2 separate regions of the Homo sapiens genome follow, and region 1 is linked to region 2. The links come from fine-mapping of genetic effects on gene expression. Tissue or cell type: whole blood. Region 2 holds a variant in brackets; the other region holds the start of a gene. All regions are shown on one strand. Distances are from middle to middle.

Region 1 (8,099 bases), 53 kb before region 2:
TGAGCCACTGCTCCTGGGTGAGATCCTATTCTTAATGCGCCCATTTTACAGATGAGAATATTTGAGGCAAGCAGTGGAGGTGGGATTTGAACCTCTGGCAATATGTTTCCAGAGTTCATCTCCAGTGCTTCCGGAAACCACAATGCAGCTCTGTTTGTACCCCTTCCTGGTGGAATTTACTGTATTTTCATGCTGACTCTTAAGTTCAGCCTCTCCAGGCAGTGTCCCTTATTTTCCCCTTAAGAAAAAAAAAAAGTGCAACTGGCTGTCAGCACTTACTTAATTTTACATAAACACCCTTTTTGGGGCTGAAGCAAATCTGACTTCTTTTCTTTTTTTTTTCTTTTAGAAAAACACACTTTATTCATATTTCTTTGGGGTTTTGTTTTGTTGTTGTTGTTGTTTTTGTTTGTTTTTTGAGACCAAGTCTTGCTGTGTCACCCAGGCTGGAGTACAGTGGTGCGATCTCAGCTCACTGCAACGTCTGCCTCCCAGGCTCAAGCTATTCTCCTGCCTCAGCCTCCCAAGTAGCTGGGACTACAGGTACGTACCACCATGCCGGGCTAATTTTTGTATTTTTAGTAGAGACAGAGTTTCATCATGTTGGCCAGGCTGGTCTTGAACTCCTAGCCTCAGGTGATCCACCCACCTCGGCCTTCCAAAGTGCTGGGATTACAGGTGTGAGCCACCGTGCCCAGCCAAATCTGACTGATTTTCAATGTGAAAATAAAATATAAAAACAGTTCTTGGAGTTATTTCTAACCAGAACTAACATCAGAATCGTCAATTTTGGAAAAATTGGATTCATCAGATAAATTTTCAGCCAACAACTGTTTGAGAATGATAGTAACATCATGCGTAGGAATGCTACACTTTTCTAGGATCTGACATTTTCAGCAATCAAGAATTACTGTATTTTGTAAAATATACTATAGTATATAGTAAAAAATACCATATTTTGTAAAATATAGTAATCTGGAAATATCCCTACTAAAAACAGAACACTATAAATAGAATCATGTCTTTTGTTTTCAAAGTTGATACACTAGAGCAATGCAAAAATAATAATAAAGGTGAGATATTTCACGGCAAAGTTATCTCTGGGTAAATGCTGCAGCCACAAGCGCCACCAGCTAGTATTCTTGGGGCCAACGGGGAAAGAATGAAGGCACAAACAGAAAGCCACTGATGAATCTGGCTAGACGCGGTGTCTCAGGCCTGTAATCCCAACACTTTGGGAGGCCAAGGTGGGAGGATCACCTGAGGTCGGGAGTTCCAGACCAGCCTGGCCAACATGGTGAAACCTCGTCTCTACTAAAAATACAAAAGTTAGCTGGGCATGGTAATACACGCCTGTAATCCCAGAAACTACTCGGGAGGCGGAGGTTGCAGTAAGCCAAGATCACGCCACTGCACTCCAGCCTGGGTGACAGAGCGAGAGTCCATCTCAGAAAAAAAAATAAAATAAAATAAAAAAAGAAAGCCATTGGTGAATCTTTGTTCCAGTGACAATAACTCCAAAGCTGGTAGTTTGCTTTGCAAAGAACAAAAGGGGAAGGCAAAAACACGTGGAGCTTTTCTTTCTAAGAATTCGGGGATGTTCTATGCACCTCCTTTGTACCTTGTGACAGCTGCTATCAGTGGCTGCCCACACCCATAACCTAACAACACATTAATATGCCCTAGCTTAACGCTGATACGGGAGCTAGAAAGAAGTTATTTAGGCAGAGAGTGAGGGCAAGAGAGTCCTCGGTAAGGTTTGCCTTTTAATAAAAAGCAGCCCCCAAATCATTTATTTTATTTTATTTTTTTTTTTTTGAGACAGAGTCTTGCTCTGTCGCTCAGGCTGGAGTACAGCGGCACAATCTCGGCTCACTGCAAGCTCCGCCTCCCGGATTCAAGCAATTCTCCTGCCTCAGCCTCCCGAGTAGCTGGGATTACAGGCGCATGCCACCATGCCCGGCTAATTTTTGTATTTTTAGTGGAGACGGGGTTTCACCATGTTGGTCAGGCTGGTCTCAAACTCCTGACCTTGTGATCCACCCGCCTCGGCCTCCCAAAGCGCTGGAATTACAGGCGTGAGCCACCGCGCCCGGCCAAATAATTTCTTTTCTAAAAAAGAGCAGTCTGAAAAATCAGCCGGCAGACATAGAAAAGCAAGCTGGAAGCTTGCTCGGGTGAATGCCGGCAGCTGTGCCAATGGGAATAGGCTACCTGGGTGCCAGGCGTGTTCAACATGCAGGCTTGCTCCATGTTCCCTTTTCTTTATCAACCACGTGTACGGTAAAGGAACAGGCAACATGGTCCTGGCCAGGTAGAGACCCCATCTGCATAATAAAATATTAGGGTGGGCAGCCAGCTTCTTTGTACTCTATGTAAACGGCACACCTGGTCCAACTAATCTTTGGGCCCTTATGTAAATCAGATATCACCACCTAAAGCTCATCTATAAAACCCCGTGCATTTCACCATGAAACTGGAAGACCCACTTGGGAGCCCCCTCTCTTTGCAGGAGAGAGAGCTTTTCTCTTTCTCTCGCCTATTAAATTTCTTTTCTTTCTTTCTTTTTTTTTTTTTTTTTGAGATGGAGTCTTGCTCTGTCACCCAGGCTGGAGTTCAATGGCACAATCTCGGCTCACTGCAACCTCTGCTTCCCGGGTTCAAGCGATTCTCTTGCCTCAGCCTCCTGAGTAGCTGGAATTACAGGCATGAGCCACCACACCTGGCTAATTTTTGTATTTTTAGTAGAGATGGGGTTTCACTATGTTGCCCAGGCTGGTCTCAAACTCCTGATCTTAGGTGATCCACCCGTCTCAGCCTCCCAAAGTGCTGGGATTACAGGCATGAGCCACTGTGCTCGGCCTAAACCTCTGCTCTAAAAGTAATTTTTTGTGTGTCTGCATTTTATTTTATTTTATTTTATTTTATTTTATTTTATTTTATTTTATTTTATTTTAAGACAGAGTCCCACTCTGTTGCCTAGGCTGGAGTGCAGTGGCACGATCTCGGCTCACTGCAGCCTCCGCCTCCTGGGTTCAAGCAATTCTCTGCCTCAGCCTCCGGAGTAGCTGGGATTACAGGTGCCTAACACCATACCACACTGGCTGATTTTTTGTATTTTTAGTAAAGACGGGGTTTCCCCATCTTGGCCAGGCTGGTCTTGAACTCCTGACCTCGTAATCCACCCTCCTCAGTCTCCCAAAGTGCTGAGATTACAGGTGTGAGCCACGGTGCCCGGCCATGTCTGTATTTTCTATTTCCTTGGTGTGAGGCAATGAACCTCGGGTATTACCCCAGATGGATGACACTGCTTCAATATCTGCCAGTCACTACACTTTGTTATCAGTGGGATTACATCAACTGGAGCCCATTCTATCTGCTTGGAGGCCAGGCCTGAAGATTCAAGGGGTTGACACCCTCTAGGAGCAAGCCTCAAGTCAACCCATGACTGACAGTAGGTGGGATATAAATACCTCAGCTCCCTCACCCCTCGGTTGGAATAACTGAAGAGTATGTTCCATGCCGCTCCCCAGTCATCCCTGGGGAGGTTAAGTTCCACTTTCTCACCATGTAACTTATTTGAAGACACACCCAGTATTGGCTCTTTGCCTTTCCTGATTCACTTTCTCCTCCCCCAGCTGGTGCTTTCTGGGGCCACCTTCTTGATAAACTACTTTTGCTAGAATCCTTGTCTGAGGGTCTGCCCTTGTGAGACCCTAAGATGTTACCAGAGAGAGTTAGGAAGCTGGGAATGGGGTGGAAGTGTTGCTGTATAATCGTCAGACAGAGTTGAGATCTGAAGGAAAATAAGATGGTTAAAGCTCTTGACTCTGGAATCAGAGGGTCCTGGGTTCAAATCTCAAGTCTGAGAGATCTTGGACAAGTTATAACTCCTCTGCAAGTCTCAGTTTCCATTTTGTTGGTGAATAGAGGGAGGGAGGGGAATTCCTACTTTACAAGGTTAACATGATAATGAAATTACACTTTGTTGCCAATGTGCCTAGCACACTGCCTGGTACATGATGGTTGTGATGGCTGTCTTTATACGGGAGACTGGGAAGAGACCCTAAAGGCTGAGATTTGCTTCACTGGAGGCAGGAAGCGGAAGCTCCTTTATTGGGTGCAATGAAAGAAGGTGTTGAGAGATGGGAGATAGATGTTGATGGGAAAGAAAAAGGGAGAGACCATGGGAAGGAGAGAGAGAGAGAATGATATACATTAGGCAGATTAACTTCTCTTTATTGTGAAGAAAGGGGGAAATTAGGATTTTCTAGGCTGTCTTTTAGTTGCAGCAAGTCAGCAAAAAGGGCTATGATGACCAGGCAGCATTGAGCAACTCTGACTCCGCCTTCCCCTCTTCGCACACCTTCTGGTTACTGAAAACCCAGCGTTAGTAGAAAAGTTTCTTTTCTTTGAATGACAGAACTACAGCATAATGCGTGGCTTCAACCTGCTCCTCTTCTGGGGTGAGTGTGAGGCTGAATGGGGGGCTAGGGGAGGCCTGGATTGGAAATAGACTTCAGGAGAAATGGGAGGGCCATGGATGGTCCAGCCAAGAGATCATAAGTCCAGACTGGATGCTGCAAACACCTTCATTCAGGGAACCTTTGACAAAATTCCATAGCTCAGGGAAGTCCATCTGTTAGGATAGATTTTTCTCTATAGTCATTCATTTGACCTGAGCAAGTCCTGTGTGTCAGGTGCTGTTCTAGGCACTAGAGGATATAGCAGTGAGAAAAAAAGACTAAGTTCCTGCACTCTTGAGGCTGATATTCTAGTGGGTAGGAGCAGACAGGAAAGAAGGCACAGATGATCATAGCCCACTTAGCACTGCTGTAACTTCTTTAAACATAGAGTGTATCCAATTGTCACAACATTTCTATGACATTGGGTCATTATTAGTCCTATTTTGCAAATGAGAAAACTGAGGCAAAAGAGATAAAATAATTTTCCCAAGGCCACTTAGTCAATAAGGGGTAGAGGCAGGATTTCAAGCCAGACAGTCTGACTTCAGAGTCTGTAAGCTTTTCCACTATACTATGTTGCCCCAAAAAATAAGTAAACATAGGAATTTCAGGTAGTGATAAGTGCTATGAAAGAAGTTGTTATAGAATGTGGTCGGGAGTTATGTTGAAGGGAGAAGTCTGGGGTTGAGGAGGGGCAGTTCGAGCTGAGTCCTGAAGGATGAGATAGACCCTTCCTGTGCTCTTATTTCTCTTTCTTCAGGTGTCAGTTTGTCTCAGCCTTGTTTATCTTCTGTGTTTCTGGTTTTTCTTCTATGTCTTGTGTGTTTTGGTCATTGGATCAAATTTAAGAATGGAGGATATTGGGGACATATTCTAAGTAGCAAGTATGGGTTTCCTCTGCTGTTGAAGAGTGGATCTGAATACCCTATTTTACCAAGGAGGAAACTGAGGCACAAAGAGATTAAATAACTTCCTCAAGGCCACGCAATCATTAATTGGTGAAGCCAGATTTTTAAACCTAAGCACTTTGACTTCAGACTTTGTATGCCTAAACAGCATGCTGAATTACCTCTAAAATAATTAATGAATGAGTAGAAGAATTTTTGTTAGTAATAATAGATAGAATTTGGGAGTTTAGATCTGTGGGACTTGTTGACTGGCAGGCTACATTAGAAGAAATAGGTGGCCTGTGGACATCAAATGTAGGCATGCAGAGTTGTTATTTTGGGGTGTTGGCAATGGTATTAACCATTAACACTCCCTATTCTGCCCTGAAGATAATCAGCAAAGAGTTGTGATAATGATAGTGATGATAATGATCATGATGGTGGTGGTTATAATAGTGATGATGAAAATGGTGATGATGATGGTGATGGTGATGATGATGATGATGATAATGGTGATGATAGTGATAATGAAGATGATGGTGATGATGATGGTGTGATAATGACCATGAAGATGGTGATGATGGTGATGATGATAATGGTGATGATAGGGATAATGATGATGATGGTGGTGATGATGGTGTGATAATGACGATGAAGATGGTGATGTTGGTGATTATGGTGGTGATGATGATGATGGTGGTGATGGTGATAATGGTGATGGTGATGATGATAATGGTGATGATGGTGATAATAATGATGATGATGATGGTGATGATGAAGATGATGATGGTGATGATGATAGTGATAATGATGGCGATAATGATGATGGTGCAGGAGACCTAAATGCTGCAGGGCTGCATTGCCTTTAAACACTAAAAAATGGGCAGGGCGCAGTGGCTCACGCTTGTAATCCCAGCACTTTAGGAGGCTGAGGCAGGCAGATCATGAGGTCAGGAGATCGAGACCATCCTGGCCAACATGGAGAAACCCCGTTTCTACTAAAAATGCAAAAATTAGCTGGGCGTGGTGGTGCGTGCTTGTAATCCCAGCTACTCGGGAGGCTGAGGCAGGAGAATAGCTTGAACCAGGGAGTTGGTGGTTGCAGTGAGCCTAGATCACGCTACTGCACTCCAGCCTGGTGACAGAGTGAGACTCCATCTCAAAAAAAAAAAAAAAAAAAAAAAGGAAAGAAAAACGAATTGCCCTACCCTCTCATGAAATGTTAATACTACAGATATACTGTATACCTATATATGTATTTTCTATATATACATATGTATCTTATACATAAAAGAGTAAGCTTAAAAAGATCTCTTCCTGAGAACCAAGTTTGGGTCCTTAGAGGATATATCACCCCTTTTGAGAATGCATGCTTTAATGTATGTTTTTGAAAATCAGCTAGAACTTTTTTTTTTAGACAGGGTCACCTAGGCTGGAGCGCAGTGGCATGATCTTGGCTCACTGCAGTCTCTATCTCCTGGGCTCAAGCAATCCTTCCACCTCAGCCTCCTGAGTAGCTGGGGCTACAAGTTGTCACCACCACCCAGCTAATTTAAAAAATTTTTTTTTTGTAGAGACAAAGTCTCACTGTGTTGTCCAGGCCGGTGTCAAACTGCTGGTCTCAAGTGATCCTCCCACCTTGGCCTCCCGAAGGGCTGGGATTATAGGTGTGCACCACAGTGCTTAGCCTGGAACTATTTAATCAAAAAGAAAAAGAAGATAAAGACAGACAAAATGAAAAGCAAAAGCAAAGTACAGAAAACCAGGAATGGTCATTGTTAAGCTTATGCAAAATAGTGTATGTTTGTTCCTTAACTAGGTTTGTCATCTAGCCTCTTCAAACCTATTTCTGTGGGGCCAAGCCAGGAGTAATTTTGCAGGTTGAGCCCAAAAGGTTTTTTTTTTTTTTTTTTTTTTTGGTGGTTCATGGTGTTTTTCTTTTCTTTCTTCACAGGATGTTGTGTTATGCACAGCTGGGAAGGGCACATAAGACCCACACGGAAACCAAACACAAAGGGTAAGTTGGCCAGAGAGAATGCAGATGCCTGAAGGGGTAGAGAAAGTTTTCTCCCCGGGGAAACATCCCAGGAAGCTGAGCCTCATCCAGATGCTTGCTGGGAGCTAGTTAGCGGCAGAGCAAGGGTTAACATGCAAGTCTCCTGATTCTCACTTCAGGCTCTTTCCTTTGTGCTTAGAATTGCTGTGTGATCTCAGATAAGTCACATAACCTCTCTGAACTTCAGTTTCCCAAGCTGTGAAATACAGATAACAATAGGGATGTTGTGAAACTTTAATTCAAAGAGGTAGCTTTGGAAACCACCTGGTATGTAGTATGAGCTTTATAAATGGTAGTGTAGTGAGAGTAGGGATGGAATTTACTCAAACTACAACTCAATGTGCAAAAAAAAAGTGACTTCTTTATGTTTTGTTAAATACTCTCATCTACATAAACTCTTGCTGGATAAAGGAAGAAAGACATTGTCAGTTCGTAGTTGTTGATATGGTTTGGCTATGTCCTCACCCAAATCTCACCTTAAATTGTAAGAATCCCCACGTGTCAAGGGCGGGGCCAGTTGGAGATAATTGAATCATGGGGGATGGTTTCCCCCATACTGTTCTCGTGGTAGTGAGTAAGTCTCACGAGATCTGATGGTTTTATAAATGGGAGATCCCCGCACAAGCTCTCTTGCCTCCTGCCATGTAAGTAAGACATAATTTTGCTCCTCATGATTGTGAAGCCTCCCCA
Region 2 (8,107 bases):
GTCAAAAAGGAGGCCTGGTGTGGTGGCTCATGCCTGTATTCCCAGCAGTTTGGGAGGCTGAGGCAGGTGGATCACGAGGTCAGGAGATCGAGATCATCCTGGCTAACATGGTGAAACCCTGTCTTTACTAAAAATACAAAAAATTAGCCGGGCATGGTGGTGGGCACCTGTAGTCCCAGCTACTTGGGAGGCTGAGGCAGGAGAATAGCTTGAACCCAGGAGGCGGAGCTTGCAGTGAGCCAAGATCACGCCACTGCACTCCAGCCTGGGTGACAGAGTGACACTCCATCTCCAAAAAAAAAAAAAGACAAAAAGGTAAAACAAAGTTGATACATACACATACTCATAGCAGAAAATGTAAGCAATAAGTTTCACATCAGATGAAATTCACCATTTTAACCATTTTAAAGCGTGTAACTCGGTGGCTTTTCGTACATTCACAGTGTTGGGCAGTGACCGCCACTATCTAGTGGCAAATCCTTGTTTTTTTTTTTTTTTTGAGACAGAGTCTCTCTCTCGCCCAGGCTAGAGGGCATTGGCACGGTCTCGACTCACTGCAACCTCCGCCTCCCAGGTTCAAGCGATTCTCCTGCCTCAGCCTCCTGGGTAGCTGGGATTACAGGCATCTGCCACCGTGCCCGGCTAATTTTTCTATTTTTAGTAGAGACGGGTTTTCACCATGTTAACCAGGCTGGGCTCGAACTCCTGTCCTCAGGTGATCCACCAGCCTTGGCCTCCCAAAGTGCTGGGATTACAAGCACCCACCACCACACCCAGCTAATTTTTGTATTTTTAGTAGAGATGGGTTTTCACCATGTTGGCCAGGCTGGTCTCGAACTTCTGTCCTCAGGTGACCTGCCCACCTCGGCCTCCCAAAGTGCTGGGATTACAGGCTTGAGCCACCGCACCCAGCCTGATTGCATTTAAATGTCTATAGGATTTGATTTTGCAACACCTAGGCTTGGAGACCCCACCCTACATTTGTCCACACCTAGGTGGCAAATTGGAGAGTGGCCACCTCAGACCATTCCTGGAAGTGTGGCCTGCAAGGACAATAGCCACCTCCCAGAGCCTTACATGCTGTACATCTTCTCCCCAGGTTACTGACCTTCAAGGCCTTTGCCCAGCTCTTCATCCTGGGCTGCTCCTGGGTGCTGGGCATTTTTCAGATTGGACCTGTGGCAGGTGTCATGGCTTACCTGTTCACCATCATCAACAGCCTGCAGGGGGCCTTCATCTTCCTCATCCACTGTCTGCTCAACGGCCAGGTGTGTAGCTGCTGCCCTCCCCATCCCCCTCCTCCCATCCCCCTCTCCCCCCTTCCCCACCGCATCCCTCCACCCAACATCCCTGTCACTGGACCATTTCCCTGCATCTGGATGATGTGTCTCCTTCTCCAGGTACGAGAAGAATACAAGAGGTGGATCACTGGGAAGACGAAGCCCAGCTCCCAGTCCCAGACCTCAAGGATCTTGCTGTCCTCCATGCCATCCGCTTCCAAGACGGTGAGAGACTGCATGCTCCCTGCAGGTGCTGGTCGAGGGAGGTGCCGGCCTCTTGGTGACACTCAGCTCTGCCACGTGTTGGGTACTGAATGGGAGCTGAGGGTGCCCACCCTAGTTAGCTCATGGATGAAGTGTGGAGTTGAAGACTGGGGATTTATATGTATATATTAGCAGACACACACACATTATCTATCTCTCTATTTAAATAAAATTTCAAGAATAAGACATATATAATTTATAACAGATTTACATAGATACATTTGTATATGAATTATGTAACATATTAAAAATAATACATATTTATATGTTATGTTTATAAAATACATTTATATGCACTTATTATATACATATAATGTATAATATTATATACATATAAATGTAAGATGTAAGTTTAAATATAGATACCGGCTGGGCGCGGTGGCTCACACCTGTAATCCCAACACTTTGGGAGGCTAAGGTGGGCAGATTACCTGAGGCCAGGAGTTCGAGACCAACCTGGCCAACATGGCAAAACCCCCATCTCTATTAAAAATACAAAATTAGCCGGGCATGGTGGCAGGTGTCTGTAATCCCAGCTACTCATGAGGCTGAGGCAGGAGAATTGCTTGAACCCAAGAGGCGGAGGTTGCAGTGAGCAGAGATTGTGCCATTGCACTCCAGCCTGGGCAAAAAGAGCGAAACTCCATCTCAAAAAAAAATTAAATAAATATAGATATCTTCACATGTATATTTATATAGAGAAAATTTTTATGTATTATGGATAACATTTATATATGTAGATTTTCAGGAATATTGAAATATTGGAATGAATATGCAAATGGAGGCAAAGCTGGTTTTCCCACTAGAATGTCTTATTTTTTTCAACAATGTATTCCACGCCCCTAAAATGCTGTCTAGCACACAGTAAGTTCTTAGTGAATATTTTCTGAGTAAATAATAATTCAATAGCTTAGTTTCCTCACTGATAAAATGGGGATAATGGTAATCCTTACCTTGGAAGGTTATACTAGATATTAGATGAACCAGTATGCAATGGGGTTGGAAGAGTGCCTCGGACATAGCAGGATCTCAGTGTTAAGCCTTGCAGAAGTCCAGTGAGGTAGGTATCACTGCTCTATTTTCTTTTTTCTTTCTTTCTTTCTTTCTTTTTTTCTTTTTTTTTTTTGAGATGGAGTCTCGCTCTGTAACCCAGGCTGGAGTGCAGTGGTGTGATCTTGGCTCATTGCAACCTCTGCCTCCTGGGTTCAAGCGATTTTCCTGCCTCAGCCTCCCAAGTAGCTGGGATTACAGGCGCCCGCCAGCACACCCAGATAAATTTTGTATTTTTAGTAGAGACAGGGTTTCATGATGTTGGCCAGGTTGGTCTCGAACTCCTGACCTCAGGTGATCCACCTGCCTCAGCCTCCCAAAGTTCTGGGATTACAGGTGTGAGCCACCACGCCCAGCTGGTCTATTTTCATTATGAGGAAACCGAATGTCATAGAGGTTAAGTCCAGTGATTTCAGAATGAGCCACAGGAATCACCCCACTGGAAAAATTGCCCATATCATGGATGACATATTCTCTTGGCAATACATTTTTAAACATAATGCAGTTTACTATAGTTTTAATGAAAAAGACAGTATAGGTATAGAACATTTTAGAAAACATTTGTAAGCATTGAAAACAAATAAAATTTCCCATTATCCCACCACATACAGATCCCAGTGAGTCATATTTTTGGATGCAAGCACCTTAGATCCAGTGGCTTAATTAAATAGGGAAATGATTTTCCTTGCAAGAAGTCCAGAATTAGGTGTTGCGAATATTGCTGGTGTTGCTGGTTCTATGCTTAGTGGTGTTGTAAAGGCTCTAAACTAAGAATCTGGGTTTTCCCCAGTTTTCCATTCCACCATCAACATGTTGACATTTTATTGTATTTTCATGGTTGCAATATGGTTGCCACAGCTCCAGACATCATGACTATGTTCAAGTCAAGAAGAAGAGGGATGGACAGGACCAGAAAGCCCTTCTTTCATGTCTTTGTCTTTAACAGTAAATGAAAGCCCAGAAAACTCTCAGATTTCCCTTTACCTAATTGGTCAGAAGTGTATCATGTGACCACTCATATGGGCAAAAAATTTTGAACCAACAGCTGTTTGGCTTCCTAAAGTCCAGAGTGGGCGCTGTCAATGCTGAGGAGGTTGAGAATGGCTTTTGGGTTTTCCAACTCTGCCTGCCACACTAGGGACAATCGCATTTAACATTTTAGTGTTTATCCTTCTAGTCTTTGTTACTGTATTTTTAATACTTCTGTCCCTGTAGACATGACCCTTGGAATCACGTTTGTATTAATTCTGCTGCAGACTCTGAGGAAATTCTTTTCTCTCTCACAGGGTTAAAGTCCTTTCTTGCTTTCAAATATGCTATGGAGCCACAGTTGAGGACAGTAGTTTCCTGCAGGAGCCTACCCTGAAATCTCTTCTCAGCTTAACATGGAAATGAGGATCCCACCAGCCCCAGAACCCTCTGGGGAAGAATGTTGGGGGCGGTCTTCCTGTGGTTGTATGCACTGATGAGAAATCAGGCGTTTCTGCTCCAAACGACCATTTTATCTTCGTGCTCTGCAACTTCTTCAATTCCAGAGTTTCTGAGAACAGACCCAAATTCAATGGCATGACCAAGAACACCTGGCTACCATTTTGTTTTCTCCTGCCCTTGTTGGTGCATGGTTCTAAGCATGCCCCTCCAGAGCCTATCATACGCCTGATACAGAGAACCTCTCAATAAATGATTTGTCGCCTGTCTGACTGATTTACCCTAGGATAAAGACTCTTTGTGATTTTAAAGAAATGGTCAGTAAAACTGTAATGAGAGTCCCAGGGAACCAAGACGGCACATAGACAGATAAGCTACTTTGGCACAAACACTTAAAAATAGTTGTGTTGGTAAGTAGGGGGATGTTTGATGTAGCAGAATTCTAGCACTCCCTGGAGGGTTGAAGCACTTGGTGACAACAACCTTTGGAAAGTGCTTTGGTTTCCTGAGGTCCTTCAGGTAACCAAGACCTCCCTGTTTTCTAGAAACTTTCTAATGACTTGGCTAGGATTTAGGATTTTCTCTATCACAGTTATCGCTACCTATCCTTAATTTTTTTTTTTTTTTT[G/T]ACAGAGTCTCGGTCTGTTGCCCAGGCCAGAGTGCAGTGGCATGATCTCGGCTCATTGCAACCTCTGCCTCCCGGGTGCAAGTGATTCTCCTGCCTCAGCCTCCCAAGTAGCTGGACTGCAGGCGTGCACCACCACGCCTGGCTAATTTTTGTATTTTTAGTAGAGACGGAGTTTCAGCATGTTGGCCAGGCTGATCTTGCACTCCTGACCTCAGATGATCCACCCGCCTCACCCTCCCAAAGTGCTGGGATTACAGGCATGAGCCACTGCGCCCGGCCACCATCCTTAAATTCTTGAGCTTGGGAGAGAAGAAGATGAAGGTTTAAATGCAGGTATTTTCACTTCTATGGGCACTGTAAAACCTCCCAATCCAAAGCGTGGTCCCTGGATCATCAGCATCACCTGAGAGCTTGTTAGAAAAGCAAAGAAGAATCTCAGACCCCACTCCAGACCTCCTAGATCAGGACTTGCATGTTAACATCCCCAGGGGATGAATATAACCATGGGTGTCTGAAAAGCACTATTGTAGAACATTCTTCTGTTTGCCATGCTGACAGCAGAGCTTGTCTTTAAAGCCAGAGAGAAATGTCTTCTTCTTGACTTGGACCCTTTGCATCTTCTCTTAGAATAACTTCCCTGAAAACTCAATTGATGTCTTCTGTCTCTTTGAGTTGCAGTGTAGTCATCCCCTCTGCTAGGAAGCATTCTTTGAATCTCCTACAGTAGAATTTGGCATTATTTTTGTGTGTGCCAAAAAGCTTCATGCTTTCTCACCCTGTATTATGATTTCTCTTTTTGTTGGGTGTCTCCAACATAGACTGTGAGCTTCGTAAGTACAGAGATTTGCATTAAGTAGCGTCTCAACAAATATGTTGAATGAATGAATGAATGAATGATTAGAATGATTACTCTTCATTTTGAAGACAGGGGAACTGAAGCTCAGAGAGGTTAAGTGACTATCCCAGGATCACACAGCCACATAGGTCGTTGAGCTGGGTTTTGAGCTCTTGACCATAAAGCTCCTTCTCCAGATGCCTTGTTCCCCTTTTTCTCTTCCTTTCGTGCCAGGAATACTTAGTTTAGGGTTACAGAGACTAGAATAATATTTACTCTGAGTCACCTAAGCAGTTAGGATTCAATTAGCTCAGTCATATCATGCACTGGACAATTTGTTAACAATATTAAACTCAGTTGATGGAGGCTCTGTCTTTGTTATTCTTGGCAGCCTAACTTGGGAGGTGGGACACATGTTTGTGAACAAGAGTTCATCTATGATAAATTAGTCTTCAACGCTTGGCTTATCCAGAGTGCTCAATACAGAGGTGATAGTTCTTAGAGAGATGGAAGCAAGAGATGGCACTGCTCCTATCCATAGCCAATTGTCATAGGTCAATGGCATCAATGGGCCCAATAATGGTCTCCATTTAGCCACATCCCTTTCCTGTAACTTTGTAACTCTCTCCTTGTCTGACTCTGGGGTTGGACTTGAGATTTGCTGCAGCCAGTGGAAGGTTAGGAAATGTGACTGGAACGTAAGTTTCAAAATCGTATGTGTAATCCTTCTTACCAGTTACACGATTACATTTGCTCACCTTGCTTCCTTACCCCCACCATGTGAACATGCCCAAGCCCGCCTGCTGGAGGGACATGAGAAACACAGAATGAAGGGTAAGTCACCGCAGTTACACTGGTGGAGGTTGTCCTCAGCCAGCCACCATGCCAACTTGCTGCTTTAATCACAGGAGAGAGCCCAGCCAACATCAGCAGACCTGCTCAGCCAACCCATAAACAGACTGAGGAGCAGCAAGAAAGTATCATTTTTCAGACACTGAGTTTCAGGAGTTATTTGTTATGAAGCATTTATTTGTAGCAATTGCTGATGGATACAACAACCAAAGTATGGTCAACATTCTGCATTGGACTGCAACAATTTGGAATGTAAAAAGAAAGAATTTTGATCTCAATTTCTTCTGAGATATCAGGATAATAAATTCTGTACTACTTGAATAAAGTTTTTTCCTGAGAGAAGATTTGCCTAAGGCTTTGTCTGTCTGTACAACGGTGTTACATGTTGGTCTGAAATATAGTCACCTTAAGAAGCTCTATATTTCTAAGGTAAGTGGATAAAGGTGTGACCTCCATGCAGGATTTTTTTCGTACTACACACATCAAGCTATACTTGGTACATTTTTTTTACCCTTGTGGTCTCATATGTCTCCGCTAGAGGGAGAAAGGAGACAATTAAAAAAAAAATGCGGCCCGGCGCGGTGGCTCACGCCTGTAATCCCAGCACTTTGGGAGGCTGAGGCGGGCGGATCACGAGGTCAGGAGATTGAGAACATCCTGGCTCACCCGGTGAAACCCCGACTCTACTAAAAATACAAAAAAATTAGCCGGGCGTGGTGGTGGGCGCCTGTAGTCCCAGCTACTAGGGAGGCTGAGGCAGGAGAATGGCGTGAACCCGGGAGGTGGAGCTTGCAGTGAGCCGAGATCGTGCCACTGCACTCCAGCCTGGGTGACAGAGCGAGACTCCATCTCAAAAAAAAAAAAAAAAAAAATGCATGAGTAGAAGAAATACGTTCTGAAGTTCACTGGTAGAGTAGGGTGACTATTGTTAGCAACACTGTATTGCATATTTCAAAATATCTAGCAGAGAAAACTTGAAATGTTTCCAACAGCTAGAAATGATCAATGATCAAGATGGTGGACACCCCAAATACCCTGTCTTTATCATTGCAAACTCTGCATGCAACAAAATATCACATGTACCCCATAAATATGTACAGATATTATATATGGAAAACCCTAAGTGGCTGCAAATCCCATGAATATAATGTGAAATAACTTTGCTATCTTATAATCCAAATAATTGTGTACAGAAAATTACAGATCCATTCACTCAAAAAATATTTATTGGCCGGGTGCTGTGGCTCACGCCTGTAATCCCAGCACTTTGGGAGGTCGGAGCAGGCTGATCATGAGACCAGGAGATTGAGACCATCCTGGCTAACACGATGAAACCCCGTCTCTACTAAAAATACAAAAATCAGCCGGGCGTGGTGGCGGGCGCCTGTAGTCCCAGCTACTCGGGAGGCTGGGACAGGAGAATCGCTTGAATCCGGGAGGCGGAGCTTACAGTGAGCCGAGATCGCGCCACTGCACTCCAGCCTGGGTGATAGAGTGAGACTCTGTCTCAGAAAAAAAAATGTATTGACCACCTCTATTGTGCTTCCCCCTCAAACACTGAAGTAGTTAAAAACATTGAAACATTGAAAAGTAATTATTTTAGAACCTAAAAAGTATTTTAAATTTAAGTATTTTATAGTTCCCAAACTAGAATTATTAAAATTATACTTTACTGGTTCTAATGGAAGTAAACTCATCAATAACAGTTTTTAAATTGGTGTCTGAAAAGAAAAATCATTAAAAAAATATTATTTGGCCATACAAAAGGAG

Evidence for each region. PIP is the estimated chance that this variant, and not a neighbour inherited with it, causes the effect.
Region 1: ADGRE1 starts here. The variant in region 2 is fine-mapped to the expression of ADGRE1 in whole blood (INTERVAL, PIP above 0.99).

The regions. Positions count from the first base shown.
Region 1 is chr19:6,883,174-6,891,272 of GRCh38, forward strand. ADGRE1 (adhesion G protein-coupled receptor E1) reads left to right here and starts at 4,406. Exons shown (of 21, transcript NM_001974.5): 1 at 4,406-4,466; 2 at 7,308-7,370. The coding sequence starts at 4,436. RefSeq lists an enhancer at 4,400-4,459.
Region 2 is chr19:6,936,144-6,944,250 of GRCh38, forward strand. ADGRE1 (adhesion G protein-coupled receptor E1) reads left to right here. Exons shown (of 21, transcript NM_001974.5): 19 at 1,100-1,268; 20 at 1,401-1,505; 21 at 3,881-4,307. The coding sequence ends at 3,886. It overlaps LOC105372256 (a long non-coding RNA gene), which reads right to left and starts at 2,560. Exons shown (of 3, transcript XR_936288.4): 1 at 2,498-2,560. The variant G/T (reference allele first, on the strand shown) is at 4,651.